3 separate regions of the Homo sapiens genome follow, and all the other regions are linked to region 1. The links come from fine-mapping of genetic effects on gene expression. A gene starts in region 1. Each other region holds a variant in brackets. All regions are shown on one strand. Distances are between the middles of the regions.

Region 1 (11,172 bases):
CTTAAAGGGTCATGTTCATCCTTCTGAGAAAGTGATAGATGAGAATGTCTACATCATGTGAAGACCTGGACCTGGAGGAACCTGGCAACAAGTGCAAAGTTCCTGGGGTGGAAATGGGCTTGGCTTGTTCAACTAAATGCACTAGGGAGGGAAAAAGAGGGAAGGAGGAATGACAAACTGTGATATGCAAAAAACAAAGGCAGAAGGTAGTCATAAAGAAATTTGGGGCCAGGCGCAGTGGCTCACGCCTGTAATCCCAGCACTTTGGGAGGCAGAGGCAGGCGGATCACGAGGTCAGGAGATCAAGACCGTCCTGGCTAACACGGTGAAGCCCCGTCTCTACTAAAAATACAAAAAAAAAATTAGCCGTGCGAGGTGGCGGGCGCCTGTAGTCCCAGCTACTCGGGAAGCTGAGGCAGGAGAATGGCGTGAACCCCGGGGGGTGGAGCCTGCAGTGAGCCGAGGTTGCACCACTGCACTCCAGCCTGGGCGACAGCGAGACTCCATCTCAAAAAAAAAAAAAAAAAAAAAAAAAAAGAAATTTGGGAGCCAGAAAGAAAACTGAAATTTTATAAGTTTAATGGGATACCATTGGGGAGTTTTGAGTAGAAAAGTAATGTGATATAAATTTACATTAAATAAAAACCACTTAGCTCTGTAATGAGTTTTAAAAACAGTGAGATACCACCTCATGTCGGTTAGAATGGCGATCATTAAAAAGTCAGGAAACAACAGGTGCTGGAGAGGATGTGGAGAAACAGGAACACTTTTACACTGTTGGTGGGACTGTAAACTAGTTCAACCATTGTGGAAGACAGTGTGGTGATTCCTCAAGGATCTAGAAGCAGAAATACCATTTGACCCAGCAATCCCATTACTGCATATATACCCAAAGGATTATAAATCATGCTGCTATAAAGACACATGCACATGTATGTTTATTGCAGCACTATTCACAATAGCAAACACTTGGAACCAACCCAAATGTCCATCAATGATAGACTGGATTAAGAAAATGTGACACATATACACCATGGAATACTATGCAGCCATAAAAAAGGATGAGTTCATGTCCTTTGCAGCAACATGGATGAAGCTGGAAACCATCATTCTGAGCAAACTATCGCAAGGACAGAAAACCAAACACCACATGTTCTCACTCACAGGTGGGAACTGAACAATGAGAACACTTGGACACAGGGCGGGGAACATCACACACCGGAGCCTGTCGTGGAGTGGGGGGATGGGGGAGGAATAGCAGTAGGAGAAATATGTAATGTAAATGACGAGTTAATGGGTGCAGCAAACTGACATGGCACATATATACATATATAACAAACCTACACGTTGTGCACATGTACCCTAGAACTTAAAGTATAATTAAAAAAAAAAAGTTGAAAAGGGAGACCGATTAAGGATAACACAGTAGTTCAGGAGAGAAACGGTGGTGAATTAAATTTGGTGATGAGGGCAAAGGTAGAGAGAAGAGTGTGGATTTATGATGTAGTTTGGAGAAAAAGTAGATAGGACTGGTGGATAGATTATTTCTAGTGAGGACAGGAAAGGAGCTTTCTTCTAGCTTTGGGATATGGGCAAATATGTGAAATATGATGAAATAAAAATACCTGGGGAAGAAAAATTTTGAGGAGGGAAATTGGAATTCAGTTTAGCAGGCTGGTTGTGGTGGTTCACACCTGTTACCCCAGCACTGGGAGGCCGAGGCAGGGGATTGCTTGAAGCCAGGAGTTTGAGACCAGTCTGGACAACGTAGCAAGATGTCATCTCTACAAAAAAAAAAAAAAAAAAAGAAAAAAGAAAAGAAAAGCCAGGTGTGCTGGCACTGGCATGCACCTGTGGTCCTAGCTACCGAGGAGGATGGGGTAGGAGACCAGCAGTCTGAGGTTGCAGTGAGCTAATTGTGCCACTGCACTCCATCCTGGGCAACAGAGCATGACTGTTTAAAAAAAAATTATATTTAGGATATATTAAGTTTCAAATAAGTATTGAACATGCAGGTAGAAATGTCAAGCTGGTCATTGGATATTTGAGTGTATAACTTAGGGGAATATTGGATCACAAGATATGTTTAATATTTCTCAATTCAGACTGTACTTAATGTCTAGAACTTCTGGGGGCCCAAACTCACACAGAACTAAAGCTCTAGAATTCAATTCAATCTCCATTCTTCTGCCTCCCTTCACCTTTTACCTTAACTAACACACACAGTGTTTGGCAATAAAGAGTTGCATATCTGAGTGTTAGATAATGCCAGTAAAACAGACATTCTTCTTACACTCTCGATTTTCATTCTTGTACTTTTTGGGCTTCTTCTTTTCTCAACTGTCGATGGTCTCCACTGATAAGCCATTCTTTATATTCCTAGACAAAGATACCAAGGTTCACCATTGCATGTTTTTTACTTTGATATCAGTTGTGACTCCTAACTGCTTCAATCCATGGTTCTGTACAAAAGTGTAGGATTTCAACATTGATGGATGGTGCTTTCAATATCTGACCATAAGTATTATTTGTCCTCCACATGAAATTTTCTATTTCTGTGATTTTTCTCATGCCATTTCCTTTGCCTAAAATGTTTTGCTCCCCTTCAACTTGTTTGGATTCTAGCCAACCTTCAAAGACCTAATGCTCCAATGCTTTTTTCAAGAGGCCTGTTAGGATGTCTCAGGCAAAAGTAGCCCGTCTTCCTCTGAACACCAATAACAATTAAGAGCACACTTATGTACTTTACTTACGATAATAATACATTCTGCCAGGTACTATATTTATTTGGACATATGTATGGATAGGAAAGATCAAAAACATTTGCTATGCCTGAAACTTGATTCTAAATGGCTCCCCACACATAGCTTTCTGATGAAGGAAACTGCATTTTGAAGAGAGATCACTGTGTCTCTACCGCTTGGCATTATCAATTGCCTGGTCATAGTTTATTAGACCTCTGTTGGACACTTACCCACTAAAGACAATGTAGTTTCATCAAAGATCTGTGAATTATTTGCTATAAAAGCTCTAACCAAACAGTGATGATGTTTAGCTGAGTACATAATCAAATTCTTTCAGGAATCTGAGCTGTGGGATGTGCTTATTCATTCAGTTAGATACAGGAGCTAGAATTTAAAATAATCATAGATAGAAGCTATGAAATGCTAGGGTCTAGGAGGAATACTGTCATAGAATGACTCATTTTTCAAAGTAAAACAGAACCACTGATTGTTAAAGCATGAAAAGCATGAAGTGATTCCAGCAGCAAGTAAGAGTCACTTAGTTACACAATGGCAAGGGATTGAACAGCTATGTCTCCTGAAAAGGTGACAAGACAAGCCCATCTTGCAAGTCACTGAATCCTTCATGCAACATGCTATGTGCAAGTCTCCAGGGGACCCATCTTCTTGGCTATTCCTAAAATTCCATGAGATGTTTTTCTGCCTTACTATCAGATTAGTCTTACTACAAACATATTACTGATGGTAGCTGGACTGAGTTGCTGTTCTACCCTACTGAACTGAACTCTACCTGGGGGCCTGAATCATGTTTAATTTATCTTTATAGACATCTCATTTAGACAGAGTACCCCTGCCGCCAAAGTGGCAGTTCGAGAGAATAAACAAAATTGGTTGATGAATTATTTGACATAATGACATATTACTAGAAGGGCACCCTCTCTCATTCTGACCATATGAGAAAGACTTAGACAAACATTTCTAATGAAATTCAGAATCAAGAGAGCTTGCCTTATATTTGAGACTTTCTTTGGGAGGTCAGCCCTTTGAGTTGATTGGAGGTGACTTTAAACTCTAAGTGGGGTTACTTAAATAAAGAGATTAGTTTGTTACCAACAGATTCTGAATAAAATTCAACTTTCCTTATTTTAAAAATGATACTCATTAGCGTCATTCTATCTGTATCTTATTTAATGCTTGTAATAATCCTGAGGCATCAGAATCCTTTTCCTCTATATTGAGATGAAAACCTGGCACAGACAGAGTAGAAACCAGTGGACTAAAAGGATAGCAGAGTGCACAGTAGGGTACTTAACCATGCCTGAGATGCTGAGTCCATTGTGCTGGTCTTTGGCAAAGCCCATGAATGGAATGCACAGAGCTCAATTCCTCCTCGAAGCCTTGAACCTCTCACTTTATTTTTCCTTGCCTGTTGCTTCCTGATGTGTGTGTGTACGTGTGTGTATTTCTTCAGCTCATTCCCTTTTTCTTTGGCTTCTTTTTTCAGTCCTACACTTAAGCTGCAAAGGACCACAAGCTACGTATGAATTGATTTACCTTTTTAATCCATCCTTCCCAGTCCAGTTTCAGCCAGGCAAAAGTTAAAGTGGCTGGTTCCGCTCCTGGGCCTGTCACATCTGGGGTACCTTGAGATACCTGATGGGCATAGTCTTCCAAATGACTGCACCCTGCCCTACTCCACCACTTGCACAACTTCGCATGGTCTCAAATATAGTCTTTAGTTCCCAGAATAGCATAGTGCACTCACTCTAAGGATGCAATTTATTCACTCATACTAATTGCTGCTTAATTCTGCATTCACCCCAGCAGCTAAGACAATTAGTGTTCACAAGCCATAATGTTATGCCATGTTTAGTTTGCAAATAAAGTGACATGCTCATATTCTGAAAGGAAGAACTTAAATCCAAACTTTTAAAAACTTCAACTTTTACATATTTTACAAATTTTCAAATGTTACATATTTAGTGTTAATTTTATCAAGACGGGGGACATACATACCATATGGTCTCAGACAAATCACCTAACTGCTCTGTATGTCAATGTTATTTAAAGTTAAATTTTACTTTCTTCAAAGGATTATGGTTAAGCTCAAATGACATTAGGTCCTTTATAAAAAGATAAAAGATAGTTTGTAATATTTTTTTAAATTATCAATACCTTCTGATGGACAGCATCAATGTGCCTTCGATTTAGGTTTGGAAATTGTGCTTTCACAATTTTATTTAGACAGCTACAACTTTAAAGTAAAAAGCTTGTATAATAATTAAAAACTGATTGATTTTAACGAAATCACAGAATTCAGAATCTCCTAGTCACCCACTGATTTAGGGCTAAATAGTTAAATAAATGACTGAGTGTCTGGTAGTTAATCTTTACACAGTTTCACATTCATGCCTGAAATAAGCAAATTGTACATAGGAGTTCAAAGTTTAGAACCTGACTTAAAAATATGTTGAGAAAGCGTGTAGTTTTTCATTAGTAAAGAAAAAAGGAAAAACAATATGCATATTGAGCAAGATTCTTTAAGCATATCATTGAGAAATGGGTAACATTACTCTGCTACGAGTGTATATTTCATATCTAGGATATGAATTACTTGCTGAACACGTTAAGAAAATCAATACATTTGCTTCAGTGTTACTACTAAATAACACCCCACTGGCCTCAAAATAAAAGCAGAAAGGAAAAAAGAAAATCTAGTATATTTTTAAAAAGTGTATCAACTTTCTTTTCTTAGGTTTCATAAAATGAAAGGGGAAGAAACTCTGTTCAAGAGTAGGCATTTTCACTTCTCTAAATAAATATTTAATATGACTACTAGCAGCATAAGACAATTAAAGTTACCAGAAAACAGAGGACTTAAAATCTGTTTAAGAATATCTTTCCCTCGTCTGGAGTTTGACCTAATCTTACCGCTTAAACTCAAATAAGAACAGGACTAACTTTGGTTTGTCAAATGTAACCATATTCAGTGCACTATGTTCATCAGTTCTTTTCTATTACATTAGTAAAGATCTTTTCATTTAACCCATTTCTAAAGGTGGGGCCTTTAGGAAGGTCATACCATTTTTATTTACAAAAAGAATATATATAAAAAAAGAAGAGAGTAGCAGAAAAAAACCTCTAAAACACTATGACAAGGATTCTAGCTGACAGAAGTTTCATTTGGAAAAAACATGGAGTAAACATTAGGGTAGAGAGTTTTTATCAGCGCCTCAAGCTTACCAGCTAGGATCCCAATGGAGTGTTTGGCTCCCAGAATCTCTCCAAGAACCTCTCAAGAATTCCTTGAAAATGTACAGGCCAGATCTTAGGGTGAGAAATTCAAAGAACTGCTCAGACTCCACCCAGTGGAGAATTTATAAATATTTTACTTTACTTCCTCTCCCCTAACCAATCGGTAATCTCCAGCCACTGTCAGAAATTTAAGCAACATGTGCTCCTGCCCACCATTTCAAATGCCAGAGCCTCCAGTGAGGGCTTCTTTCCAGAGGCAACTTTGCTCTTTAAACTCAGGTAAACACACACTTGTCCTTTAACTATATAAATCTCTGACCCCTGAACTGATGAGTTGGTCTTAGAGCTAAATTCCAAATTTTGCCTTTCTTCTTCACTTTGAGCTCTGGATTTTTGAGACAATACCCTCCTTCAAATACACTGAGGATTTTCAGTCTGATGGTTGAATCTATGACATTTAATGGGTAAACTTTTTAGTCAAAAGTTTAAAATAGGCTCTCAATTCCAGAATACACTCTATTGCCTAATATGTGAGTTTTCAAAAACTCCTAGGTAATAAATCTGGACAGTTAACAAGACAATGAAGGAAGAAAGATCTGAAGATTCAAGTGGAAACTAGCCTGGCAAACTTCATTAATGCAAATTATTCATTTAAGTCTGTGAATTGTCTTTTGTTCTAGTCTGACTACCTCTTTAGGCTTATTCCTGAGCTTGGGTCTTTTGATGAATATCCTTGTAGTTATAAAAACTAAGAGCAAAGACTTTCGATATTAGGACTAGGGATGAAGAATGTGCTTGAATAATTGAATGACTTATGCACACCTATGCTTTATTTAGTAACCCACAACAAATCAAGTAAAGTGTCATTTAATCATTTCTATCAAGTGTTCATTGTATAACCCTGAGCAATTCACTTAACCCTTGTGGAGGCTCAGTCTCCTATTTATCAAATGAACTTAATAATACCTTCCTCCCAAGATTACTGAAACGATAAAACCATGCAGGTTGAAGGCCATAGATACCATGACACTCAAGTCAAAAGTGACATATTGTCTTTTTTTTAATCTTAAGTAACCAGACAAAAAGTACTACTCTCCAGTTTCCAAGAGAGGGAGATAAAGTGCATGAAATTGCTTTAATACGAGTAATTGACCAGTGAAAATAAAATATATTTCACTTCATTGATCCTATCCTTACAATAATCCTATAAAGTAAGTAGACTACCAATTGATTAACTTAGAATAGTAAAAGTTTGAATCCATTCAGGAAATTTCAGAAGGTGTACTTTTTTTGCATCTATTCTGTGTATGCCTCATGCTGTAAAAACTTTGGAAGATTACCAGGCTCTAATATATGGGGAGCGAACCAGAGGGCGGATCTGTGTCATTTTTGTGTCACTCTTTTAAAGACTGACTATAGATTTAGAGAGCTAGATATGGACATTAAGGTTTTGTTTTCACAAGATCTTGCTTCTTCTAAAATCTTGTAATAATATGATTAAAAATTTCATCAAAATATTATCTTAAAAACTACTGTTTAACTTGTCACCTTTAAAGAACTTGCTTGGAGGTCTAAGCTATACTTCTATTTCTTATGTTTTATAAATTTCTTTCTTTCTTTAAATTTGTTACATTTGAGGAATAAAAATAAAATCCCAAGCCCCTAGATTAACTGAACGGACACGCTCTTGGCCAAGGGGATCCCAGAGTAAACTTGAAAACTAAGTTTTTGGCCATGACAGGATAGGAAGTGGAACACATACCCGCTCCATCACTAACTATGATTAGGCTTTCTGCCCTATGGCTAAAAAGAAACCAGTCATTTCAAAAGATTACACCAATGACATCAACCATCACCTGGTGTTATCCCTCTCTTTTGTGGTTTGGAACAAAAAGAAAATACTGATCATGGAATGTTTCTGGCTAGTCTATGGAGAATGTGCAGTAAAGGTTTTCATGTCCTCTGCTTCACATTGGGCTGAAAACTGCCCCCTCAGATTGTATTAATGCTGTCATTTTTTGAACACGGATCCCATGGAGAAGCATGAAACTCCATTGTGCATGTGCACATTTCTCCTTTCACAAATATTCATGGCTTCCCCTATAGCTTATTGAATATATATATTCAGCTACCCTGCTCAACATAAATTTCTGTTTCCTTTGCTCCTCCCTCAAAATGTCTGTTTCCAGCTTCTGATTAGAGGCTATACTTTTCAGAGGTCAGAATGATCACCCTGCAGGCTGCAATCCTTTATGTGAAATGAAGCTCTCCTTTCCAAATGTATGAACCTGTCATTCTTCAGTTGACACTTTCATTCATTCAAGAAAAGTATTAAGCATATTCTCTGTACCAAGCACAAAGTGAAATGCCAGGGATGTAATGGGGAGCAAAACTTGTATAATAACATAGGCCGCTAAATACAGAAGGGAATTATGAGAGAACGAGTCATGCGGGGAGGGGTGAAAGCAAGACCCGCTACAGGGCCAGCAGTCAAGGTTAAACAGAGAACACTGTGAGATACCATTCCTTCCTTTTGGAAACAGGAAGAAAAAAAGTGTTGCCAGAATAAGCTGTTGTACAATTCCGAGTTGTCTATTAATTTCCAGGTATGGCATCCTGCTTATAAAATGATATGTTTCCGAGAGGAAAAGACTAATTTTATCCTCCTCAGAGCTCTACCTATGTATGGAGCTAAATAAATATCTACTGAATTGGTTAATTTGTTTTTTTTTAATTAAGATCTAGTTTATTTTCTAAAAATTGATTATTGGAAATATGGGAAAGTTTTGTCCTCTCAAAAGGTAATCTTGAACCATGAACTTTATTCTTATTCTTCAGGGCATTTTCGCCATAGTTAGGCCAGTATCTAGCATTTAGTAGACTAAAATGGGTGCTTGCTGGATCATTAACTAAATTAAATTCAGATCAGCAAACTCTTTATGTAAGAATCCAAGGCTGCACTACCAGGCTGATCATAACACTCTAATGCTGGGTGCTCAGTATGTGAAATGAGTAATGAGATTAAAGACAGAGACAAGTTAGGAAAGAACTAATAAAAAAAACTGCAGTCTCAAACTTGGGTAAACAGAAAATTTCACAATACGCTATTTTTCTTAATTAAATAAAAACGCAGAGCTCACATGTGACTTCTTAGGAGGAAAATTTACTCTGAGTCATTATTGGAACTCTCCTTTCTTCTTTACACAGGGTGTTGGGAAGTTCCCAGATGGGAGGGGCAGATTAGCTTCCTTCTCTCTGCCCTCCTGCCTCTCCTTTCCCCTCACCATATCCCTGGGGCCTTGCACACCCAATCACTCTTTCCAAACTTCCCCTTGGGGATAACCAATATAACATAACAAAAACTTTCTCAAATGCCAGTCATGAGATTTGCCTTAAGCAATTTCTGCCAAGGAACCTACAGCATCTTCTCTATATGGGTAGGGGAAAATATAAAAAACAGAGCACACACAAAATTATCTCTCCTCTCTTCTTCCCTCTCCCCTTATCTGTCCTTCCTTCCCCTCTCCTTCCTTTCCTGCTGCCCCCTCCTCTTTCCCTCTTCTTGCCTTCTCTCCTCTTTCTCTAATGCCCTCCTCTTGCCTTCTCTTCCTCTCTCTCTCTCTCTCCTTTTCTTTTTCCCTTTTTCTCTCTTCCCTCCACTGCACTCTCATTTCCTCACCCATACTCTCCTTTCTTCTCCCTCTCCCTCCTACAACAGGGAAGGCAAAGCAAATTAATATGCTAATAAATCACTAGGCTATGTTTAGACAATCTACTTTTTCCTTCCTGTGAGATACATAGTCTGGTTATTAGAAAAATTTCTCAGTAATGGGCGGGGACTTTCCTACCCTCTCTATATGTTGTATTTTCAGTTTTTCAGAGGAAAATGCAAGGGCTCGTTATAAGCAAATGACATTTTGCCAGTTGGTGATTAAAATTTATTTAGAATCTAAAATTCCTATAACCCATTCCCTTTTTCCTAGATCAGAACTTTTCCCTCACTGTTAAACTCACAAAGGTATAGAAGGCAATCTAAATCATGTGCGGTAGCAGAAGAACTTTAGTAGTTTTCTGTTATATGTGTTTGCAGGTCAATTTGCTCAATTGTCTGATTGTTTACATGAGGAATTTCTGAGTTTCCTGTAAAACATGAAAAACCCAAAGTGACTTGAGTCATATTGACATCATTGACCACATAACAACATCATTGATGTCATGATGACTCTGGAAAACGGGAACAGGCATTACAAAATCTCCATTTAAAGACAAAGCTTTCATATACCAGGGTTTCTTTCTATAGTACAAGGTACGATGTACATGCCCTCTTTTACCATAACAACTTACAACAGAAAATTTTTTTTCTTAATATTAAAAATGACTATCAACAGGGATAGTGTAGAGCTGATGTTTGGAGATGTCACTTCAAGATCCTCTTCTGGGATTTGTCCTTTTTCCTATGTTTGTCTGGCAAAGTATTTTCTAGTGTCACTAATAAACGGTGTAAAATTTCCCATTTTGGAAGTGTCCAGTATGGGTCCACCATTTTGCCAGTCGTTTGAAACTTCTCATAGCTTACAGTATGACAGACACCAAAATATAGCAAATTCCTAAATTGTCTTAACCCCACATCGCAGGCAGGGGAAAAGAGTTCACTAGACTAGGATCTGAAGAATGGTGCAATATGTCCCCAAAAGCCAAAGAAAAGTGCTTCTGAGGGGCTCTGAATCTAGACAAGGAAGATGCAGAGTATTAGATAAGAATAAGAGCTAGTAAGAAACAGAAAAGGACAAATGCATTTGAAATTTTAACTTGTCTTCATGTAAGAAAATAGTGTCCTCTATAGAAATATTTTTGTAATTTAGAGGAAAAATATAATTAGTTAGCAAAATACAAATTTTCAAAACTGACCAAATAAGAGAAACACTTGAAGAAAACAATTCCTTTAGAGGAGATTAAAAATGCATTTAAAGAGTTATTGTATAAAAGGAAACATCCCCACTGCCAGGAAGTACAGAAAAAAAAATAGAAGGCAACATTACGTTTGAAAAGTTTTGCATATGAATTCTAGCACAGCATTAAAGATTAGGAGAACCTCATGTTATTCAAACTATTCCAGATCATACAAAAAGATGAGCTTTCCTGTTCATTTTCTGAAATTATGCTAATTTCAGTT
Region 2 (11,172 bases), 320 kb after region 1:
TCCAACTTTTTCAATTTTATGGTTATCTATAAACCTGGATTTAGTATGTGACTCTTTCCCAAAAGCTATAATTTTGGACTTACTGTAATTAAATTTAAGTTCTTATCTACTAGAAAGGATGGTAAAATATCTTTCAAATACATTTAGGGTCAGGTCTTCAGCAGGCTGTGGGCAAGGGTGGTGAGGGTATCTATGATAAGAGCTCACATTTTCTTTACCTCAGGAGAAATGCTTGCAGGATAATAACTATTCACATTTAGTTCACTGAAGGGAATCGACAACTGTTGGTGTTTTCGAATAACTAGCAAAAGCCAAATTAATTTCAAATTAAATTGATGAGTGTTTGTGGCATATTGAAACCTGGGGCCATGACTGCAATGTTCCTGGGGGTTAATTGTTCTATGATTTCAACCTGCAGTGTTATGTTATCTATCATAGTAGGGAATTAATAGTATTAATTAAATTGGACAGGCAAAAGAAGTGATGACAATAAAACCAAAGAACAAAATACAAAATTTGGAGATAGATAGCTAGATAGTAGATAATATAGATACAGACAATTTAAGCTTCTTTTTATTCTGAAATAAAAGGTAATCTCTAGATTCTCAAATATTAATAGATAAGAGGCTTTTAGATTCTAGTTTTTGAGTGAAGTAAGGAGGAAAAATATAAAGGCAAATTGATTAAAAACAAAGTACCAAGCAAATACATATTCAAAAGGATAAAAATAAAATAATGCATTTAAAGTGAAATAAAGTCAAGTAATAAATCTATGAGTTCATGTGGCACAACATAAATTTTTATCAAAAGACAGGAAGATTCCCAAGAAGATCTCAAACGATGAAATGTTTCTATAAAAAGCTATAGAAACAAGGAGAGTGACATCATCTGGTGCTAACAAATGTGGAACACTTCACTGAGTACTCTGAACATTTTTTGCAGCCTATGATTGTGAAGAAAGAATACTGTCTGAGGAGAAGGAGAGATAAAACTGAGACTCTCAAGGTCTTCTCCAGTCTCCTGAATTTATGATAATGTGAAATATAAAGAAAAAAAATAGCTTGATGGTAATTGATACAATGAACCCCAGATACAATAAGGAATAAAAAGATATAGACAAATAGCAAAGAGGCAAGGACATTTTCGTCTCAAGGCAATCTTAAATTTCTCTATCAGGTAAAGATGGAATGTGTCTAGGTTTAGTTCCTTCTTTTGCTTTTTGGGATGAGATTTTCATAGCTTCTGAATGTCCAACAAATTCAACCCTATATGTTTGATCTTATATCTTAAATTAATTTCCTTGGTATAAACATTGAGAATGTACTCATTGGTCTGTCTTCCTTGGTCAACCTCAATGACTTATGTATAAATTCAGCAAGAATTCAAGAGGGTTCGGAGCCCCCGTAACACAGATCGAGATGAATGACCAGCGCAAATTTTCCTAATTGAATAGAGAGGGGGGGAAATAGTACAGCCACAAATCACGAGGTCAGGATGATATTCACAGCTTCAAATACTACGGCTTCGAAGGGATGAGAATTTTAGTTAGAAAGCTTTCTTCCTCATTTTTATGTCAGCTTCCCTTTGGTATCTTTTCCATTTTTCTGAGACTAAAAATCCCTAGATTTGACCTTTTGTTTATATAATTTAAATTAATTATCTGAATAATCAAAGATTTTTATTTCATTTTCTGGAGCAACAAGAGCTGGGTCTGCTCTCAGGAGGTTTTAAGATCCGTAGGGTCAAAGACTATACTCTCTTTCTCTGTCAAACACAGCAATAATATAGCTATAATAATCAGGTTATATTTTCTCTACTATGTTGAAAATGGAAGATATTGCAGTCTGATAATTCCTCCCAAATGAGACTTGAATATTAAGAGACTCAAAATTCCATGGAATAATAGTAACAGGTTTATATTACACAGTAACCAACTAATCAAACTTTCTTACTTTGGGGCAACAATTTGGATGTATTTACATGTTCAGTTGGAAGTCTATTTTAACTGAAAAGGTAAAATATTTAGGGGTCTGTCCTCTAAAAATACCACATTTAGGATTGGATTTGACTCCATTTTGTTTTTTAGATTAGATTAGATGTACTTCATTAAAGAAAAAAATTTTTAAAAAGTGTTAAGAAAAGTAAAAAATATCTACAGACTCAATGTCACTGAAAAGAAGGGAAATGCATTTTTAATTTAAAAATATATGAATTACATAAAATATTTCTTCTGGACTTTTCAACTCTGGGTCAAATTTGCTACTGCCTATTTGCAAAAAAAATACAAGTATGTTAAGATTATAGTTGGAAAATTTGATATACCAAAAAAATAGAAGGATACATCTCTGGGAGTGGGATACAGTCTTCAGCATTCTGATTTGTTTTAACTTATTTATGTTTTAATGTTCAAATGAGTCAATAGTATTCAGTTAAAGTTGAAAATTACTGAATAAGATTATTTGACCAAAGCCTTACCGTGTCAAAACATGGTCTAAAATACAGCTTCCCCTTACATCCACAATAATAATTAGCCTTGGTCACCAAACCAGAATTGCCTGTCTTGTTTGCAGATAACAATATGATGGCTTTGATAGATGCAATGTATGTAATCAAGAGTGGAAAATTAATGGTAAATTGATGTTCTGATATGAATAGAACAACTTGTTTTCCATATTTGCATGGTGCTTGCCAATGACTATATCTACTGGGCCCAAGTAATACTGGAAATAGCTTTCTGGGGTCAGTAATATCAGCCAAAACAATGAAATAGTAGCTGTGTCAGGAAACAACCTCACCTGACTTCTCTATTAGTTGGGAGAAAATATAAAGTGACCTGCCCTCTCTAACATGATCTTAGACCAATTATCATAGTGCATCTCTTTCAAAAGGCCAAGATATCTTAAACGAATGCCCATCGATAAAAGCTTTTCCCATAAACTCACCCTATTAATTAAATCAAATGTAGCTTTTAAACTGATGAGGCTGTAAAGATAAGTTGTTCCTTAAGGTCAGTATATTTATCAATAAAATAATGTAAGGCAAAACAATGAGTAAGAGTACAGAAACACTTAAGAATCATGCTATCCACATTTAATTGTCACTTTGTGTTCCTTTAAATGGAAGACTAGGGTTGCTGAATAAAATTAAAACAAACCAACCAACAAACAAAAGAACTCAGACATTTGGCTAATATTCAAAGCATAAAATGTGGTTGCAAGTCATGTCTAAAAAACTGTTATGGAAAATGAAGTGTTGTTAAGCTAATATCAAAAGTGCTAGATAAAAAGATGTAACATTGTTTTAGGAAAAAAGATTATAAATTGATATATTTAAAATGTATATTTTGTTTCCAGCATCAACTTAGATAGAGAAAACATTGTGGAGTATAGGGAGAGGCTAAAACATGCATTTCTGTTGCTCCAGAAAACTAACATACATGGACTTTTAGAAGCAGTTTCAAAAATCTAACAGATGTAAAAATAAGTAAAACAACTTATTTTACCTATTTGAACTTTCAGATGTCTTTCCATTCAATGTGTATTTAAGACTGAATTTCTGATATTTATCTACACTAATTCTAAAGAGTCTATAGAAAATTCTGATGCCTATCAAAAAATTGAACAATATTACTGCAGCTTTATGCTATTCCCAATTTGCCTTCAATTTCCAGAAGGATGTAATATAAATGGAGTTAATTTCACTAAGCCCATAAGTAGAGTGTAATTCATTAGGACTGAATTTCAGACAGATAGTTCTACTTATCTCAAAGATGAATAGAAAGTGACTCTGAATTTAATACAAGCAAATAAGTATCTCCCACCTTCCAAAAATATTTTGCATTAATTGCATAAAAGTAAGAGATTAGGGAAAAGTACTGCAAAACTGAAAAGATCAAGGCAAAACTTCTCTAGTTGGAGGCTTCAGATTTTAAATTACATTTTGATACTCATAATATTAGTATTTCTGTAACATAATTTAAGGTCCTCAGAAATATTAACTTTTCATTAAAAAAATTTTTGATGTTACTTCTCATAACCAAAGAACATGTTCTAGTTAATGAATAAAAGTTGAATATTAGCCTTATCAACCAATCCATTTTCGCCCCTGAGCATCATTAAAAGCACTAAAATTTTGAACTCAGTTACTGACACATATGTGGAAAGACAAAACAGGCTTTTGATTAGGCAGCTGTAGAATCATCTTTTGGCTCCACTTCTGACGAGATGGGCAGCCTTGTGTAAGCTTATAATAAATAGTAGTCACATTTTTCTTAACTCAAAAATGAGAGATACCTAATGCTAAATGACGAGTTAATGGGTGCAGCACACCAGCATGGCACATATATACATATGTAACTAACCTGCACATTTTGCACATGTACCCTAAAACTTAAAGTATAATAATAATACAATAAAAAAAGAAAAAAATATTATTCACTCAAAATCTGCTTGTTGAGTGCAGGCATCTTTTGGGGTATCTAATTTTGAATAGAACAGACACAGTGTCTGCTCCCATGGAGCTTACAGTCCAGTGAATATTTCTTATGTTTGTCTCCTATAATGTATTGATGTATATATTCTGAAATTCCCTTGGCTTCAAGGATCATATGTCCTGTACTGAAATTATATACCACATTGTCAGGTTGTTAGTCTCCACAAAAACAATCCAGATTTAGGGTAGCACGCTAAAGGCAGAAAATGGTCTGGCTTACAGAATTTGAGAAGATCCTTTTGACTGTGCTTTCTGAGCCATCGTAGGAATAATGACCAATGCTTTTATTTCAGCTCAACCCAAAAAGATTTATTTAAAAATTCTCTTCTTATTGCTTGTTCTTAACTTCTTGGTGTGATTTCCAAGTTCCTTAATAATTATTTGAAAATAAAAATATTTAGAATATTATCTTTCGCTCTAAACAGCCTTCATTTAGAAGCCCATTTAGCTGTCATGTTTTTGAGTCATTTAGGCTCAAATCAGTAGAACAATATTAGGAATTTTTTTAGTAATTTAATACTAAGTTAATAGTAAGATATATGTTAGTAGCTGTTGAGTGTTCCCTACCTGCTAGACACTATGTTAAGGAGTTTACACGTATCATCTTGTTACCGGAAGGAGGGCACTGAGTGTGAGATGTCCAGGTCCTTCCTGTTTTGAACAAAGAATTGGACAAAATGCACAATCAAAGTAACAAAGAAATGAAACACAGGAACAAAGCAGCAAAAGGGGAATTTATTAAAGTGAGAAAGCACTCTACAGGGTGGGAGTGGGCCTGAACAAGCAGCTCAAAGGCACAGTTGTCACAGCCCTGCCTTAGGGTGTCTTCACCAGTTAGAAACTTCTGTGGCCGGTGCCACCTCTGCTTGGGTTTTCCTTGTGCCCACTGGGCTCGTTCTACCCACTCAGCCAGGAAGGCTGCACTCAGCTTGAGCTACTGGCCCAGATCCCATGCCTGCCAAGGACAAGCGGACAAGCCAGGTGCAGAGCAGCAAAGGGTATGTGAGCGAGTGAGCATGGGGTCTAGCCACCTTGCACAACCAGGCACGCTGGATGCTGCGGCAGGGCGGGCAGCACAGGCACTGACACAGGTGCTGGCTCTGTGCTAGGTTGCAACTGAACCAGACATACCTCAAGCAGCTTCTGCTGCAGGGACCAGCACCTGGACAAGGGGGACGTGATGGTGCCAGATTGTTCAGAGATGTCAGGAACTGCAGAGCCTCAAAAGGGTATTACAGCATGTCACAGCCCTGGCTTAGGGAGCCCCCAG[C/G]TCTGCTTCCAGAAGGTCTGCAGGTCTTCTCTCCTCATCACCCACAGTGTGGCAAGCAGAGAAAGGGAATGTTTTGTGGGGGTGTGTTTCAGCTCATTTCTGTTACTGCTCTTTCAGTCTCATTTCTCCTGTTGTGTTGGGTGGCTGCCTGGTGGCAGCAGAGGACAAGAGAGCTATAGTGTTACTGCATCTGTGGCTCAGGGAATCCCAAGGTCTGCACCCCCTGAAGTATCACCATTCTTCATTCCCACAGTCTGGGAGTGTGTCACTGTCTGAAGCTCCATAAGCCAGCCAGGAATATATTACAGCTTCTTTGGCTCCTGCTGTTTGGTGGATCCCAAGTTCTTGTCCTGCATCCAGGAAGAATGAGGTTACACAGACAACTGGAGGGTGACCAAGGCAGAGAGGAGCTTTATTGAGTGACAGAACAGCTCTCTGAAGACATGAAGTGGGTAGCTCCTATCGACAAGCAGGTCGTCCCAAGGAGCATCTGAAGCTGGCTGAGTCCATGGATTTTATGGGCTCAGAAGGCAGGAAGAGTGTGCTGATTGGTCAATTAGCAGCCATGGGTGGCCCAGGAAAAGGCACCATAAATCCTCACTCTGGGTCACAGACTCCACCTGAAACTGGCAGCCTGGCACCCAGACTTCAGGCAGTCTCTGGCTTGAAGGTGGAGCTTCACTGGGGACTCTCCCTTTCCCACCTAGGAACCTGTCTGCCTCCTGCCATCCTCAACATGCTGTCCACAGTGGCCAGGCTGTCTGTGCTGAGGGACACCTGTTGGCCTGAGCCATGCTGCCCTCAGCCTCCTGGCCTCCCTCCCAAGCTCGTTGGCACCCAAAGTCTGGAGGGGACCAAGGAGGCACGGGGCTGATGTGTCAGTGCCACCCGAAGTGAGCACACACCTGGCCATGTTACAACAGAGCCCAGGCTCAGCCACAACTTCTCTCTGCACCAGAGTGGGCACCAGGAGCAGGGAGAGGCCAGGGAGTGGGAATAGGCACTTTTGAATCTGCAGGGGCAGGGGACTTTCTGGGCCCCTGAGAGCACATGGATGCCTGGGTCCAAAGCCATGGCTGGACAGCTGCATCTGTGCCTGAGAGCACCGAGCTCCTGCCCCGCCAACTTTGTAGGGAGGAGGGCTCCCTCCGGTTCCTGGTTCCCACTGGCTCCATGGAGTACACAGTCTTGGCTGCCCCTCCCTTGCTGCAGCTGGCCATCCCAGTGGTGGCTGCTCCAGATGGCCCCTGCCTCCATCACAGTTACAAAGTTCTCTGGATTTTAGGTACTCATTTTGAGGTTCCTATTGGTTACCTCTTATGTGGATGAAGGATTTGGTCTGTGGCTAACTGAAGGCTGAGGTGAATTGGTGCCCTGTACATATGAAGATATTGTCCCTGCTTGGCCAAGGGCCAGTCCAAGGCACTCTCCATTTCCATCTGAGATGTGGAGGAAGGGGACGTGCTGTAGGGAGAGTAGTCTTTGATCCTTTGTTATTCAGTGTAGGGTTTTTTTTTTTCCTTTTGGTTTAGCTTTAGGAAGTTTGTATTAACTGGCCTTGGGTTCCATTCCTCAAACCCAAGTGTTTTCCTTTTGATCCAATTTTGGGAAGTCAGCACGAATTGGCCTCAGATTCCCTGCCCTGAGACCTTGGTGTTTTTCCTTGATTCAGCATCAATTGGCCTGAAGTTCCCTGCCTCCAGACCCTACTATCCTCCCTCAATCTTACCTAGTTTTCATAACCACCAGATGAAGTAAATATCATTTTTGTTCCCATTTTACATTTGAAGCAAGGAAGGCAAAGGAACATTAAAAAATTACTGAAAATTCCAGTTAGTAATTGAGAATTGGACCCAGGGCATGTGACTATAAATATCATTTTATTTCTCTACATTCTTCTTTGCTGACTGAACTGTCTTCAGTTCTTGATTCTTCATTTTTCCTTTATGTCTACTTATTGCTAAGGATAGTTAGCTTTTAAAATGTATATTTCTTTTTTTAAATTGGTCACTTCTTTTGTCTTGTTACAGTCATCATTTTTTTACAGGTTTTCATTAGCTCGCTACTTATTTTACTATTCTAGGTGGTGAATCACTGTCGAACTTATCTTTCTTTCAAATTGCTGCTAGATTAATAATCCTAAAACCTCACTTTGTGTAGGTACCTTCTATCAGCTTTGACGGACTGTAAACTCCTTACTTGCCTCTCAGTGACTGCACCCATCTTCTCCCAGCTTTATCTCTGTCTTTATCTTCTAGTTTATCTCCATAATGGAATCCTTTACTTTACCAAAATTGTTATGTTCATTTAGTCCTGAATATGTAATTTTACCCCTGAATCTTTCCTTACACATTTCTCCTTTGAGAAATGCCTTCTCCTATCCTATTTGTGTATTCAAACCAAAAAATTCTCCAAAGTCCAGTTCAAGTATGAGTTCTCCTCTTAACGTTTTTCCTTTAAAAATCAGGCCTAATTAGTCATCATTTACTTTTCAAAATTTGTGTAATATTGACTTCCCTTTTGACATTTTATATACAAGCTATTATATAATTAGCATGATTATTTCTTATTCACTTATATGATAGATATTTATTAAACATTAACATCAGCAGAGCCTGTCAATTTTGTAAGATGCTCTAGAGTCCACAAATAATTTTTTGTCCAGTAGGGAAGTTTAAGCTGGATTATACTTAAGTATTAAAAATATATTAGAAAAATACCACATTTCCCTGTAGCTAACAAACCAATTGTTGTAAGATGCATCATTGATTTATATCAGATTTGGGTTGTGCCAAGAATTAACTCATTACTTTGTAGTCAGAACAGGCAGTGATACTTAAGGATATAGTTTCAGGAGCCAAACCTTTGGGCTTCAAAGACTGAGTGTACCATCCTCTAGGATTAGGAACTTTGGGAGGATGTTTAACTTTTCTATACTTAACTTTCTCCCTCTGCAAAATGTGTAATAATGGAACTTACCAAATAAAATTGTTGGGAGAATGAATGCATTAATATATGCAAATCACTCAAAAATAGCTGACATATAAGGACTATATATTAATTATCATTAATTATGATTGCTCTTAAATCATAAAATATCAAAATAACTACCCATATTAGAATTGTTGACATTCAGGTCAAGAATAATCCTATGGGGGAAAATATAGTACAAAAAAGTCTATGTCTAGCTGAATGAATCATTGCAGGTATAAAGATAGTGGCATTTAAAATATACATTGATGGCTAGGTACATTATTGACTTGTATTGTGTTAAAAAGCTCAGAGACATGATAGAATGGAGTATATAGAATTAATCTGACATTTATGGTTTTTTTCCCATTAGAGTATTGTAATCTTATTTAGAGCATAGTCCTTGCTCTAGACTTCTTTTTCAGATTCTAAGTATCAACTAGAAGTATTAAGCCCATAGTAGGTCCTCAATAAAGTTTTAATGAAATGAATTAGATATAATGCTGAAAATTACTAGAAATTTGCACACTTGTAATTATCTCTATACAAGTCAGGTTTTCATCTGCAGGGCAATTAGCATGGTGAATAATGACTTGTGCATTGTACCAAATTTATTAAATGGAAAAAAAAGTTTGTGATTCTACTCAAGCAGATGACTATTCTCTCTTAAAACAGTAGTCTATTAATATGGGAATTTAAATAAACTCAATAATTAATAGTGAAAATTTAGGCCTAAGGGCTAGAACATTTTATTTGTCAGAATATATTACAGAAGAGGTTGAATTAGAAATTTCATTGTCTTTTCACTGGTGGTTTTTCAAATGTAATTTACCAGAAATATAAGTAATGAAAGGAAATGTGGATACACATACACAGCTCTGTAGAATATTTTAACATTATTTCCCACTTTTTACTATTTAGAAATACCCATGATTATTAGGGATGAATGAGTATTTTAAATTATTCAGGACCATATCCTTTGCTAAAAGTTTGACTAGAATTTGTTTCCGAAAGAGCCAAAATTCAAATTAAATATAAACATTCATTTCATTTTATTTAAATTTCTTAATATTAGTTTTAGATAAGCACAAAAGTATCACATAGAAATGCTTTCTGTTTCCCTGGATCTTTTCAGCAAAAGTCTCCAAGTGTTTGAACAAAGCATTACCTCTACGTGAGAAAACTGAAATTGTTTCCTTACTGTCAATTTACTTATAGAAACATCACTTCAGTTATTAACTTAGCATTAAACAGTTTAGGCATGCTGACTTCTCTCAAAACTTGGTTACCACCAATCACAATAAAAATGAATTAAGTTCACTAACCACTTCCTATGATTTCCAGTAGGTAAGGTGAGGTAAACTGAATGATGGCATTTCCTTGCATGTTGGTGACAATCAAATAACTTTGGAAGACAGAATGATCTTTATGAAATTATAATAATAAACATTTTCTGTCCACAAGTGGACCAAAGTAGGTTTTGTTTTAAAAGTTGTTGAGGATTCATTTTAGCCTAAGTTACTTGAAATTTTTCTCCCAGATTTGGCAAAATTTTAGAGATTCGAAACTCTTCATCCTCAATTTCCCTGTAGAATGTGATAAGTAGGAAGTTGCCCAAGAAGATGGAATACTAGTGTTTTAGCATCGTATATTGTAGTAAAATAATTCCATCAAGGTGATCGGTTGGCTCTGTTTCACAAGTTTATATATAAAACAGATTTTTATCATGACAATCTGTATGACCATTTTCACTTTGGAAATTAAATACTTGATATGAATCATTTAAAATGCATATAAAATGACCCATAATAATTCTCATTCTTGATGGTTGAAAATGAAGAAGACTGAATATTATCTTTTTTTTTTTTTTTTTTTAAGAGAGTTTCCAGGAGATATCAGGAGTTCCCCAAAATAGGTCTATGGAATTGCTGTGTTAGATCTACACTTTGTTGCTTTTGTCAGTAGATTTTGATTCTTTTGTCATAAATGAAGCATAGTTGCCCTTTGGATACTTCAAACATTACTTGGCCAGATTGACATGGCCTCCCAAATGCTGCTTTATACCAAAACAGAGAAAATAATCTCAATTAGAAAAATTCTACACAATAATTTTCAGCAATCACATTCAGATTTACAGTGCATGTTCTGGTACCTTTACACTTACACAATTTCCTTTTCCTGCAATAAATTTTAATCAGATACTTTGTGCCTAGTTGTACTCTTGTCTGAAACCTTCCAAAGTGCTGTTGTTGCCAAGGAAACCATTTCCTTGCTATCTGTGCATTCAGCAGTCTCACTGTCTGGCTCATTTTTCTCCCTCTCCCTTTCACTCATTCCAGGACTCAACTGGAAGCTTTATGCCATTGCATTAGTTAAAACACATTGCTTTCCTCCTCATTTAAAAAATGCAGAATGCAAGTTTCAACGACTTCCTACCATAT
Region 3 (11,172 bases), 160 kb before region 1:
TGCCATTTGGATTCCGCTTGTCACACTGTGGGGAAAAAATAAAGCCACAATAATGTTAGCATTATTCACACGTTGAAAATCTACATTCCAGATAAACTTATGTAAAGCACTTTCATAATGATTTCCCTAAAAATTAATATATATGCAAAATTTTTTTACTTTAAAACATGGTGTTTTTCTGTTTTATGAAACTTTTCTCTTGATAATAATTTAAGAAATAAGAATGGATTGGTGCATAAATAGCCAAGATAGATTCCTGAAATCTATTCAGCAACTATCTTCCTTAAGCATTTAATAGACCATAAATACATTTTGTTTTTTTTTTCCCGTGGGGACCCCATGGAAGGACTGGAATTCTTGGGTGAATTTAAGTGAATGAAAACCTCATTAGGGTCTGGAGAGTTTTAGTAAATTATCCTTGAACTTAATTCTCTAATCTTTGATCTCACAAATAAGAAGTGGGCTACATTGTAGGTCCTGAAGTAGCACCAGATAATTTGACATGCCTAGAGATCACTATGGTTAACTTTAGAAAACACCTGCTATAGGCTAGACAATATAGTATATAGTTTATGTGTGCTGTCCCATTTCAATCCAATCACAACTCTTGGAGGTAATTTATTTTATACCCCAAATACGGATGAAAATTTCAAGCCAATAGATCCTAATGAACTTTCCAAAGAGGACAGAGTTTGACGACAGCAGAGTTTGATTTAGAAACTTGAATTTCTGACTTGTGTCTCCAGCATCTGGGAGTAACCTCTCCTACAGGTAAACATGAGCCAAGCAATGCCTTAATTACATAATCATTGGAAGTAGATACATTATCTTTTTTCCCTGAAATTACTCAGTTCACATTTATTAGTTCTCTTCAAGAGACCAAGAAGGTCATATAGGCTGAAGGGTTAAAAAAAAATTATTCCTTGCAATGTTACCACTCCTGAGAAGTGTATATATATCTTTTTTGACAGAAGTGACAAGGTTGAAAATAACTTAATTTGATCAAGCGACTAAATAAGACTTTCTTTTTTAACCCTTCAATAAATTGGTATGATCTTTAATTCCATTCATCCAATAAATGAATTGTAGTACAGACTAGAGAAAACAATGTCCTGACTGAGTATGATGAAATAATAACTTTTTTCTGCCCAAACTGTTATGAAAAGAATGAGTAAGTTACAAAAAACTATTCCTATAAGCCAAGTTTGTGGTATCTTCTCTTTTATCAGAAACGACAGATCTCTATGCCTTTCAGTTAGCACAGTGCTGAGGGCTTAGTTGGCACTTAATTTATCCTTAATTGACTGACTGATGTGAAATAACATGCAACAATGAATAAACCAAAGAGTCCAAATTTTATCCCTAACATGCGGCCCATAGACAAAATCTGGTAGCAAAGCAAGACATACTTACAACCACTCCTCTTTTTTCTAGTTCTTGGAAAACATCTTTGTTTGGAACAGAAAATGTTATTGTTAGCTGGCACCCCCGCTCCTCTACATGAGACGGAGTAATTATGTTCACAACTGGTTTCTTGGTTGCTGCTTTATCTTTGCCATAGTTATGCTTGATCAGGTATTCCAGATAGCCAGTTAGCAAAACAGATTTTTTCCGCAATGCCTTCATTGTCGCTTGCTTAAAGATCTGTGGAATGAGAAACAATCAGATTAAAGTGTCTTATTGATTTACAAAGAAGCAAAAATTAAGAGTAAATCATGCATAAAAAGGAAATGCCCATATTTGATCTTTCCAATAAATATCTCCCTTTACATAATCTTTTTGTGTAAAATCATGCCCTCCTTTAAATGCTTTGCTATTAAATACTGAAGGTAAAATTTCCATGACAGAAAAATTGTACAAATGTCACTTAAATAAAACTTGCAAAGGAAGAAAATGTAAGTTAATATCATGTACCTGTGGCAGGCCAGGTTTCACTAATGCAGGCCTCCATCACAACTGTTTCAGTACTGACCGAGTGGTTACATTAAATATTAAAAACTAAAAAAGTCAGTGCCCTTATACAAAGGCTGGGATGAACAAAAGCCTATCAAGAGTTTTGCCTAGGCTTTCCCTGGGCCTTAAAGCATGACAGAATAATGAAGGAATTCTTAACAGGACCCATTCAGGATTAAACAAGTTTTACTGTGGTTGTGAAGAAACTCTCCAGGCCTCTACAAACAAGTTTATTGAAGGTCTAAAGGAACTCCTCAAACTTCAGTGATTTAGCAGAAGACAAGATAAGGGTAATCACTCCAGCACCTGGACCCATTTAGATTAAGTAAATTTACTGAGGCTCCAGAGGAAGGTCTTCAGGACTCAGACCTTAGTTGTAGATTAAAAGAAGTTAATCACTTATGTCTTCAGATGAATGCACACTTACACCTGTAAAACTTTGTAATTTTGAGTTGGTCTGGTGATAATTTCCAGGCCTTCTCCCTGTAACCAGTTACAGAAATAAAAACTCTCTTCCTCCCCTGTTCATCTGCATCTTGTTATTGGGCCATGAGAAATAGCAGCCCAACCCTCAATTTGGTCCGGGAACATACCTTCAAAATTATTTTAAATTAAGTTAGTATAATCAAGTAAAACATACCTTAATAAATGGATTTAAATATCATACAATGTAAGCTTTTCCCCAAAACCACTTTTTGAAATCATAATCAAGAAGACTTTTCCAACTTTGATGTAAAGTTTGTTTATCCTCAAAAAAGTGCAATATGATCTAAACATGTGCAAATGTGTAAAGCAGTGTTACTGGTGATATTTATAACTGCTTTACTGACTCCCAAATCTCTTCCAGTTTAACAATAAGAAAACAAGCAGTTAAATAATAATGCTAAGTTTCCTCAGAGAGGAAAGCAAATAATATTAGATAATGCATTTATTTTTACTGAAGCATTTGGGCTTGGTTTCTCTCATTTCCCCCCTTCTAAACTCTAGCACTGGTGTGAAAATACTGCCATTTGTGGGCTGAGATGTCTTATATTAAGATGAGTGACAAGGGCACACAATAACTGGTGTTGGAATATTAGGGGTCAGAACAGATGTGCTTTTCTGGCTTATCTCTTAAGGTCAAGTAGAGTGTAAAAATATATCCTATGTATAAGAACTAAATGAACTGCAAACAGAGCGTGATGCACTGGCCTGCCACTTAATGTTCCTTTTCTGTGTCATGAGCAAAGATATCAAGAGCAAAGATAGGGTCATTTGGTGATATTGAGACTTTATCAAGTCTATGAAAACAGTTATTCCTGTATGTACACGTGGCATGTGTAGGCAGGCACTCTAATAAAACTCAAACCATTCAGCCATAGATTTCCTGGAACTATACTGTATAGAGGCTATGGATTGGCTGAAGGAGAGGCTGGGAACTGTACTGAAGGTAAATGATATCTAAGCAAGAGAGGAAAAACAGGACAGAATGGTGCCTGTCTCTCTCTTCAACCACAACTCCCAGACAATGTCTGAAGTCTACAGAGACAGCTCAAGTAGAGGCTGATATCTTGGCTTCATAAGCTCCCGAGAGAGATCTGCAGTACAAATAATAGTGCTCCAAGATTCAGATGACCCAGGTTACACAGAACTTGGTAGGAGGCATCTCCTTCATTTTCTTGGGCAAAGCAAATGTAGGTAGACTTGGCATAATGAAGACTCAAGGGAACACTGCCAAGTTTTGGGTCAAGGGACAAGAATCAAAATTCTCCCAGAGGAGCAGGGACAGGCAAGGCACGGGCCACAGCTGGTTTGGCTGTGAAGTTTGGAATAAAAAGACTATGTGAGGAATCTTTCCAAGATTCTCTCTGGAGCTTAATAATATTCTAAGAAATTCTAAATAATAAATAATTCTAGGAAATTTTGTGGTTATGCTATGGGTGCCCTAATATGTACATGGGGGCAATCGATATGTGAAGTATCACATTTAATGATAGTTCATTTGTGTGCATAGGTTAGTAAAACTTGGAGGAATATTACTTGCATTTAGTTTTTAAAGGGGCGTAGGGAATGTTGCTCTTGAAGCTTTCTCTTGATAACTAGAAACCAATTTTTTTGGTATGACAAATAGCTTCCATCTTAATATACTGTGGAATGTTAACACTCTTTAAATCATAAAATAACTTTTAAATATAAAACTTACTTTCTCCATTACAACCACAATAAGGGCAACTGCATTCTGAGGCACTTTTAAATTCATCTCACAGAGGGTAAAAGTCTATTCTGAGCTTCACATAAAAATATTGAGAGAGAATAATAGGGAAGTAACATAAATATTCTATTTTCTTTTTTGCTTCTCATAAATGTTATGCTTTCAATATTGAGAAAATAATTTTTTTAAATTAGAAAAAATGAAAACTGTGGTTTGAAAAATATTCAGCTTAGAAGATAATACTTTGCAGAGTTTCAACTACTTGTATTTTTTTTCTTACTGACAAAATGAACACAAAGCTTGAAAAGCTAGATAAGTTTAAACAGGAAAAATAAGTTTGGTGTGATGTTTTCAATTGTCATATTTTTCTCTTAAATTCTTAAAACTGTCTCTCTAGGAAATTTGAAAGGAAACGTATAGTACATTTCTTTGTTGAGTCTTCTGACTCGCCATGTATTTTAATTGAATGCTCTAACTTTGTATTTTGAAGCCATTTATTTCATTATGAATTCAGAATACTGAAAGGGACTAAATATTGTCTACCTATCGCTACACATAAATATGAACCCTCAAAATATAATATACGTATTGTTTAAATTTAAGTATTTTGGAAAGTGAGGAGACTTCCAAAATAATCTTGTCCAAACATCTTACTTTAAAAAATAAGGCAAATACATCCAAAGGGAGTTGTTGCTTGTGTAAGGTCACACTTCGTGTCCATTGAGGGAGAGAGTACTTGCCACCAGGTTCCTGGCCTCAGGCTTCATCCCTTGATCCACAATATTTTA[A/G]GAACTATTGTATAAATGATTCAGATAAAAAAATATAAACAAAAGGACAGTTTGAAACTGATTACAATGTGCTATTTTTTATATCAATCAACCATATACACATGTATTTATTAAAAAAAGCCATATTAATATCTTTTTAAAAAGTCATTGCATTAAAAATCTAAGGTCTTATTTATATGTGATTGATTCTTAAGTATAGAATCTCTCCTCCAGTTCGTATTTGACTGTGTTGAATATTTCTTAAAAGTAGAGACAACAAAGAGGCAGTTTGATTCATGCATTTACTTCTTTCGTTTATTGAAACTTCAACCACCTATCTCCTAAAATGGAATAAACTGGTTTAAAAAGATAAGGTGGCTGAGTGCAGTGGTTCACGTCTGTCATCCCAACTGCTTAGGAGTATAAAAAGTAAAGTAGAGGTTCCTCTTCAAAGACTTTCCTTCCCGTCTAATTAGGAATAAATAGTAACTTCTCTTAGAAGCAAAATTTATTCAAAGACCTGTGCTAACATTCTTAAATATCTGCTAGCTGTAATAAATAAATCAATATACTTTATGTTTTTAGCTCCCACAATTTAGCCTAAATATTTGCCCTGGCATGCTTATACTGGTCCAAGCAGCATTAGGTCACAGCCTGTTCCTCTTCCTTATTTAAAAGTGTTTTTACCTTTCTTAGCATTCCACAAGTTACTTCCTCCTTCCTTTGTTACCCTCTACCTTTACGTCTTTTAAAAAGTTCTAAGTTACTAGCCAATCGGGACAAATACAGAATGGGAGGTCCCATTCCAGCCATTGGAACTGGACACAGCAGTAGGGTGGACACGTCAGGTTATAAATGACCCTGTCTCCTTTGTTCGGTGTACTCTCATGGCAAAACTGCTGGCGAGTGTATCCTCTCTGCAGGAAGTAAAAATGGCCTTACTAAATAAATTAAATTTGCGTTCAAGTGCTATTTCTTTATAGCACTGAAAAACAAACATTTCAAACAGGAGACTGAGGCAGGAGAATCGCTTGAGGCCAGGAGTTCCAGATTAACGTGGACAACATAGCCAGACCTCATCTCTAAAAAAATTTAAAAATAAGCTGAGCACAGTGGCATGCCCTGTAGTCTTAGCTACTCAGGAGGACCACTTGCAGCCAGTAGTTCAAGATCAGCCTGGGCAACATGGCAAAATCCTGTCTCTATAAAAAAATACAAAAATTAGTCGGGCATGGTGGTGCACTCTTGTAGTCCCAGCTGCTGTGGAGGCTGAGGTGGGAAGATCAACTGAGTCCAGGAGGCAGAGGTTGCAGTGAGCTGAGATCCCATCACTGCACTCTAGGAGTGACAGAAGGGGACCCTGTCTCAAAAATAAAGAAATAAAATAAATAAATAATAATAATCAGCCAAGTGTGGTGGTGCAGTCCTGCAGTCCCAGTTACCTGGAAGGTGGGGGCAGGAGGATCACTTGAACCCCAGGAGTTTGAGGCCATGCTAAGCCATGATCGTACTATTGCATTCCAGTCTGAACAACAGAGCAAGACCTCATCTCTAAATATAAATAAATAAAACTTAAAGGAAGGTAAGTATTAATAGAAGCATAGTTAATTCACTGATGTTTACTCACATGAGAAACCCATAAATGTCTAGAAAATAAGACATTTTAACAGAGAAAGGGAAGCAATTCAATGCATTAGTTTGTAATTCAAAAATTTTGCAATTTACAGTAGGAAAGAATTTTGAAAAAACACTTTTACCAACATAAGGCTTGATTAACTAAAGATAATTTTGGTTAGAACATAGTCTCAGCAGTGAAATGAGCAGAAAGAGGCTCAAGGGAAATATGTAAGTGATTAGAAGATCCAGAGAAATGCATATCATTCTTCTTGTGGCTTTTAGGGTTTTAAGTTTAGATATTGACTGGGTAACATAGTAAGACTTTATCTGTACAAAAAACTACAAAAATTAGCCTGGTGTAGCGGTGCACACCTGTAGTCCCAGCTACTCAGGAGGCTGAGGTTTAAGTTTAGATATTAAAAAGAAAAAATAAATCAGTTCTCAGATTATAACTGAAAATAAAAACTTTGTCTAGGTGACTCTAATACAGTGTGGTAGGAAAACAGTGGCTGGAAGAATAGGAATGTGCTTCCTTTCCCACAAGAGAAGGGTGAATACTACTAGAAAAGCCAGTCCACTGCAGAAAGTATGCCAAAGTGAAGGCGTCTAAAAGGAAATTTCCAGGTACGTCTGAGAAGTTATTTGCAAAGATATGGGCACCAGAGGAAATTACTTTAGGTACAAGCTCTTCCTAAGGTATGTCCTGGTGCTTCTGATATTGTCACACATCTCGCTGATACAAACTTGCAAGGAATGCAGAAACTTTATTTTGTTTTAAAATGTTTAAACAAAATATTTATCTGAATGGATACTATAAAAACAACTCAAATATCATTATCTGATTTACTAAGCAGATTTTTACTCAAAAAACTGTCAAAAATATATATCACTGGCTGAAAAATCTCGTTACTGTGTCTATTTTCCAAGTTAAAGAAAAATTCTGCCATGAAGTGAAAACAACACAAGCTCCATCTAGTGGTTAAACTGAGTAGGTGCGCTTTAAATTGAGACAGAATGAAATGAGGTGATGATCACTATCCAGTGGTGAAATTTAATAAAAACAGAGGAACTTGATGCTGCCATCCAGTGGCCAGAATGAGAAACTGCTGTAAGTGTTCACAGAATTATGCAATTTTAGATTAGAAGGAATTTTGAATCTTCATCCTGTCACTCATTTGATGCTGAAATCCTCTATAAGTTTTTGCCAAAATATCATAAACTACATGATTTTAGAAGGAGACATGAAAAAATTTCAAATCCTTGTTTGAATAGTTCTATGTAAAACTTCTATTAGAAATATATATGCACATTTACTTAAAATATATTTTACTTAAATATAGGTATACAAAATATACAATTACTTTATATATTTACATTATTTATGTAAATATTTATACATTTACATTATATATGAATTTTATACTATATAACCTATATATTTTTACTTGGCCACATTTAGTCTAACACTAAATAATAGTATCTAAGGAATCACAATTTCATTTTCTTGTTATGTATATTTATCATTTCAGGGTGAGACTAAATTTACCTAAATAAAAATATAAATTAATTTAAAGGAAAATATTGAGTCAGTGATAGTGGAGACTATAAATGGACATAATGGCATAGAAGTCCCAATTTAAAAAAATCATAAAACCACCCTACCTTATGAGACAACCTTATTTAATCTTTGGTTTACTCTGATTATTCTTTTTTCCTTCAAGTAAGTCTTTCCTAGCTTTGTCACATGGTACTTGGTCAGTTCATTCACCTACAATGAACTAGAAAAAGTACAGTCCCTAGTAATCACATCAGGCACACAATATTTTCTCAATAAATTTATGTTGAATGAGCGAATTTATGAAGAACTAAATATTGCATGCTTATTTGGTATAAAGAGAGGCCAAGAGAAGGTTAAATAACTTATTCATGTTTAAACAGATTCTAAGTGGAGTAAAAAACGTATCTCCCCAAAAGAGTTCCATTTAATATTTACTATGTGCCAACAATGTGCCAAGCATTGTGCTGGGGGCTGGTGACATGAATGAAGGGAGACCCTCACCACATCATCACTGTCCTAAAGGGGAATGCTGCCTTCTGTCCCTTGTTCATGCACAGTGCACATGTATCATCTTGCTGTGTAGCAGAGAAAGTACTATGAATTGTCACAAACAGATCAAGAAAAAACGCAAAGATGTGGGAAGGTTGAAACACACATCACTTACCTCTAAACTAGCATGCAAGGAACAGACCAACAAAATGGGAGGATTTGAAATTCGGAATCCACAGACCCCAGGGATTAACTGCAGTTCTGAGAAATTAATATCATGTCATTATCATAGAAGGTAACTTTAAAAGTGTCCATAAAGATACTAGAGTACTGGAGAGTAAAAGAGCAAGACTTAAACTTTTCTTCCTAAGTAGGATTTCTGAGATATTTAAGATAAGCTCCATGGAACTAAAATATCGACGTTATTTCCCGTTTACCAGCAGTTCCCACCTCCCTTGTCCCCAACTTCTTAGCAGAACACCAGAAATCTTAGACCCAAGGTAAAAATGACCTCTTCTGGAAGTTTTTCTGGATCTCATTCTCTGCCTTCCTATTCCCAAGCCAGGATTCCTTATTCTGCTCAACATTTGCTATTCTATTATGAAACCATGTCAATGAGAGAGAGCATCAGCTTTTAGTGGCATGTAATTGTAATGTCTCCCAAAGGCAGAAATATGAATGAAATGACCTATGAAGCTGACTTTTAGCTCTAGGATTGTTAGGTCAAGTGGTTTCTCTTACAGAACACACACAGACACACACACACACACACACACACACACACAATAGAGGGAGCTTTAAAAAAAAGATCTGCCTAAGTATATAAAAAAGGTAAATTAATAACAGATGCTCTACTAATTAGAATTAAGCAGATTGAACTGTAGCAAGTTAAATTCAATAGGGTTAAGATAGCTAGTCAGAGATAAGTTAACACTATGACTGACTAAAAGAATGTTAAAACTTGATGACTTTTTTATAGTTATCAAATCCAGGATTAAGCAAACTATGGTGATATGGTTTGGCTCTGAGTCCCCACCCAAATCTCATCTTGAATTGTAATCCCCATATGTCGAGGGTGGGACCTGATGGGAGGTGAATGGATCATGGGGGCAGTTTCCTGCATGCCGTTCTCATGATAGTGAAGGAGTTCTCACAAGATCTGATGGTTTTAAAAACAGCAGTTTTTTTTGTTTTGTTTTTTTTTTTTGTTTTTGTTTTTGAGATGGAGTCTCGCTCTGTTGCCCAGGCTGGAATGCAGTGGCGCGATCTTGGCTCACTGAAACCTCCGCCTCACGGGTTCACGCCATTCTCCTGCCTCAGCTTTCCGAGTAGCTGGGACTACGGGTGCCTGTCACCACGCCCAGCTAATTTTTTTGTATTTTTAGTAGAGATGGGGTTTCACAGTGTTAGCCAGGGTGGTCTCGATCTCCTGACCTCGTGATCCGCCCGCCTTGGCCTCCCAAAGTGCTGGGATTACAGGCGTGAGCCACCACGCCCGGCCAAAAACAGCAGTTTTTATGCACTCTCTCTCTTTCTCTCTCTCTCTCACCTCCCATCACCTCATATGTGCCTTGCTTTCCCTTTGCCTTCTGACATGATTGTAAGTTTCCTGAGACTTCCCCAGCCATGTGAAACTGTGAGTCAATTAAAATTCTTTCCTTTTCAAATTACTGAGTCTCAGGTGGTATCTTTATAGCAGTGTGAAAACAGACTAATATATGGCCATATGGCCTGTGGGCCAAATTTGACCCACTAGTTTTGTTTTTGTTTTTGAGACAGAGTATCACTCTGTTACCCAGGCCTGAGTGCAGTGGCTCAATCATGGCTCACTGCAGCCTTGACCTCCCCGGGCTCAGGTGATCTTCCCGCCTCAGGCTCCCAAGTAGCTGGGACTACAGATGCATACCACCACTCCTGGCTAATTTCTGTAGTTTTTATAGAGACAAGGTCTCACTATGTCACCCAGGCTGGTCTCAAACTCCTGTGATCAATTGATCCATCTGCCTTGCCTCCCAAAGTGCTGGGATTACAGGCGTGAGTCTTCGTGCCAGGCCCTGCTTTTTAAAATACAGTTTTATGAAAACATAGCCACAATCTTTCACTTATGTATCACCTATGGCTGCTTTACCACCACAATGACGGAATTGAGTATTTGCCACAGAGACTGTATAGCCTAGAAAGCTTAAAATATTTCCTATCTGGCCTTTCACAGAAAAAGTTTGCTACCCCTGATCAAATTCAATTCCTTTATTTCCAAATAAGAAAACCCATCTCAAAGAATTTAAATAACTGGTATAATAACAGATCTAATTATTTTAGCAGCCAAGGTAAAATACAGGTATCCTGACTTGACTGGAATATCCCATTTTGCAATTTGGTTGCTACAAATCTGCATACCAATGGTCCCTGACTTAACAATGGTTTGACTTAAAATTGTTCAATTTTACAGTGATACAAAAGCAGTACATCTTAAGTAGAAGCCATACTTCGACTACCCATACGCCCATTGTGTTTTCCACTTTTAGTATAGTATTCAATAAATCATATAATATATTCAATGCTTTATTATAAAATAGGATTTGTGTTAGATGGTTTTG

Evidence for each region. PIP is the estimated chance that this variant, and not a neighbour inherited with it, causes the effect.
Region 2: its variant is the best candidate, but not a certain one, in a credible set for the expression of KYNU in whole blood (INTERVAL, PIP 0.67).
Region 3: its variant is the best candidate, but not a certain one, in a credible set for the expression of KYNU in whole blood (TOPMed, PIP 0.58).

The regions. Positions count from the first base shown.
Region 1 is chr2:142,872,552-142,883,723 of GRCh38, reverse strand. KYNU (kynureninase) reads right to left here and starts at 6,060. Exons shown (of 14, transcript NM_003937.3): 1 at 5,988-6,060.
Region 2 is chr2:142,557,416-142,568,587 of GRCh38, reverse strand. No RefSeq gene overlaps it. Among named protein-coding and RNA genes, the nearest start is that of KYNU, 310 kb to the left of the region's middle. The variant C/G (reference allele first, on the strand shown) is at 5,762.
Region 3 is chr2:143,030,900-143,042,071 of GRCh38, reverse strand. It overlaps KYNU (kynureninase), which reads right to left. Exons shown (of 14, transcript NM_003937.3): 12 at 8,751-8,836; 13 at 1,414-1,644; 14 at 1-25. Among named protein-coding and RNA genes, the nearest start is that of ARHGAP15, 93 kb to the left of the region's middle. The variant A/G (reference allele first, on the strand shown) is at 4,933.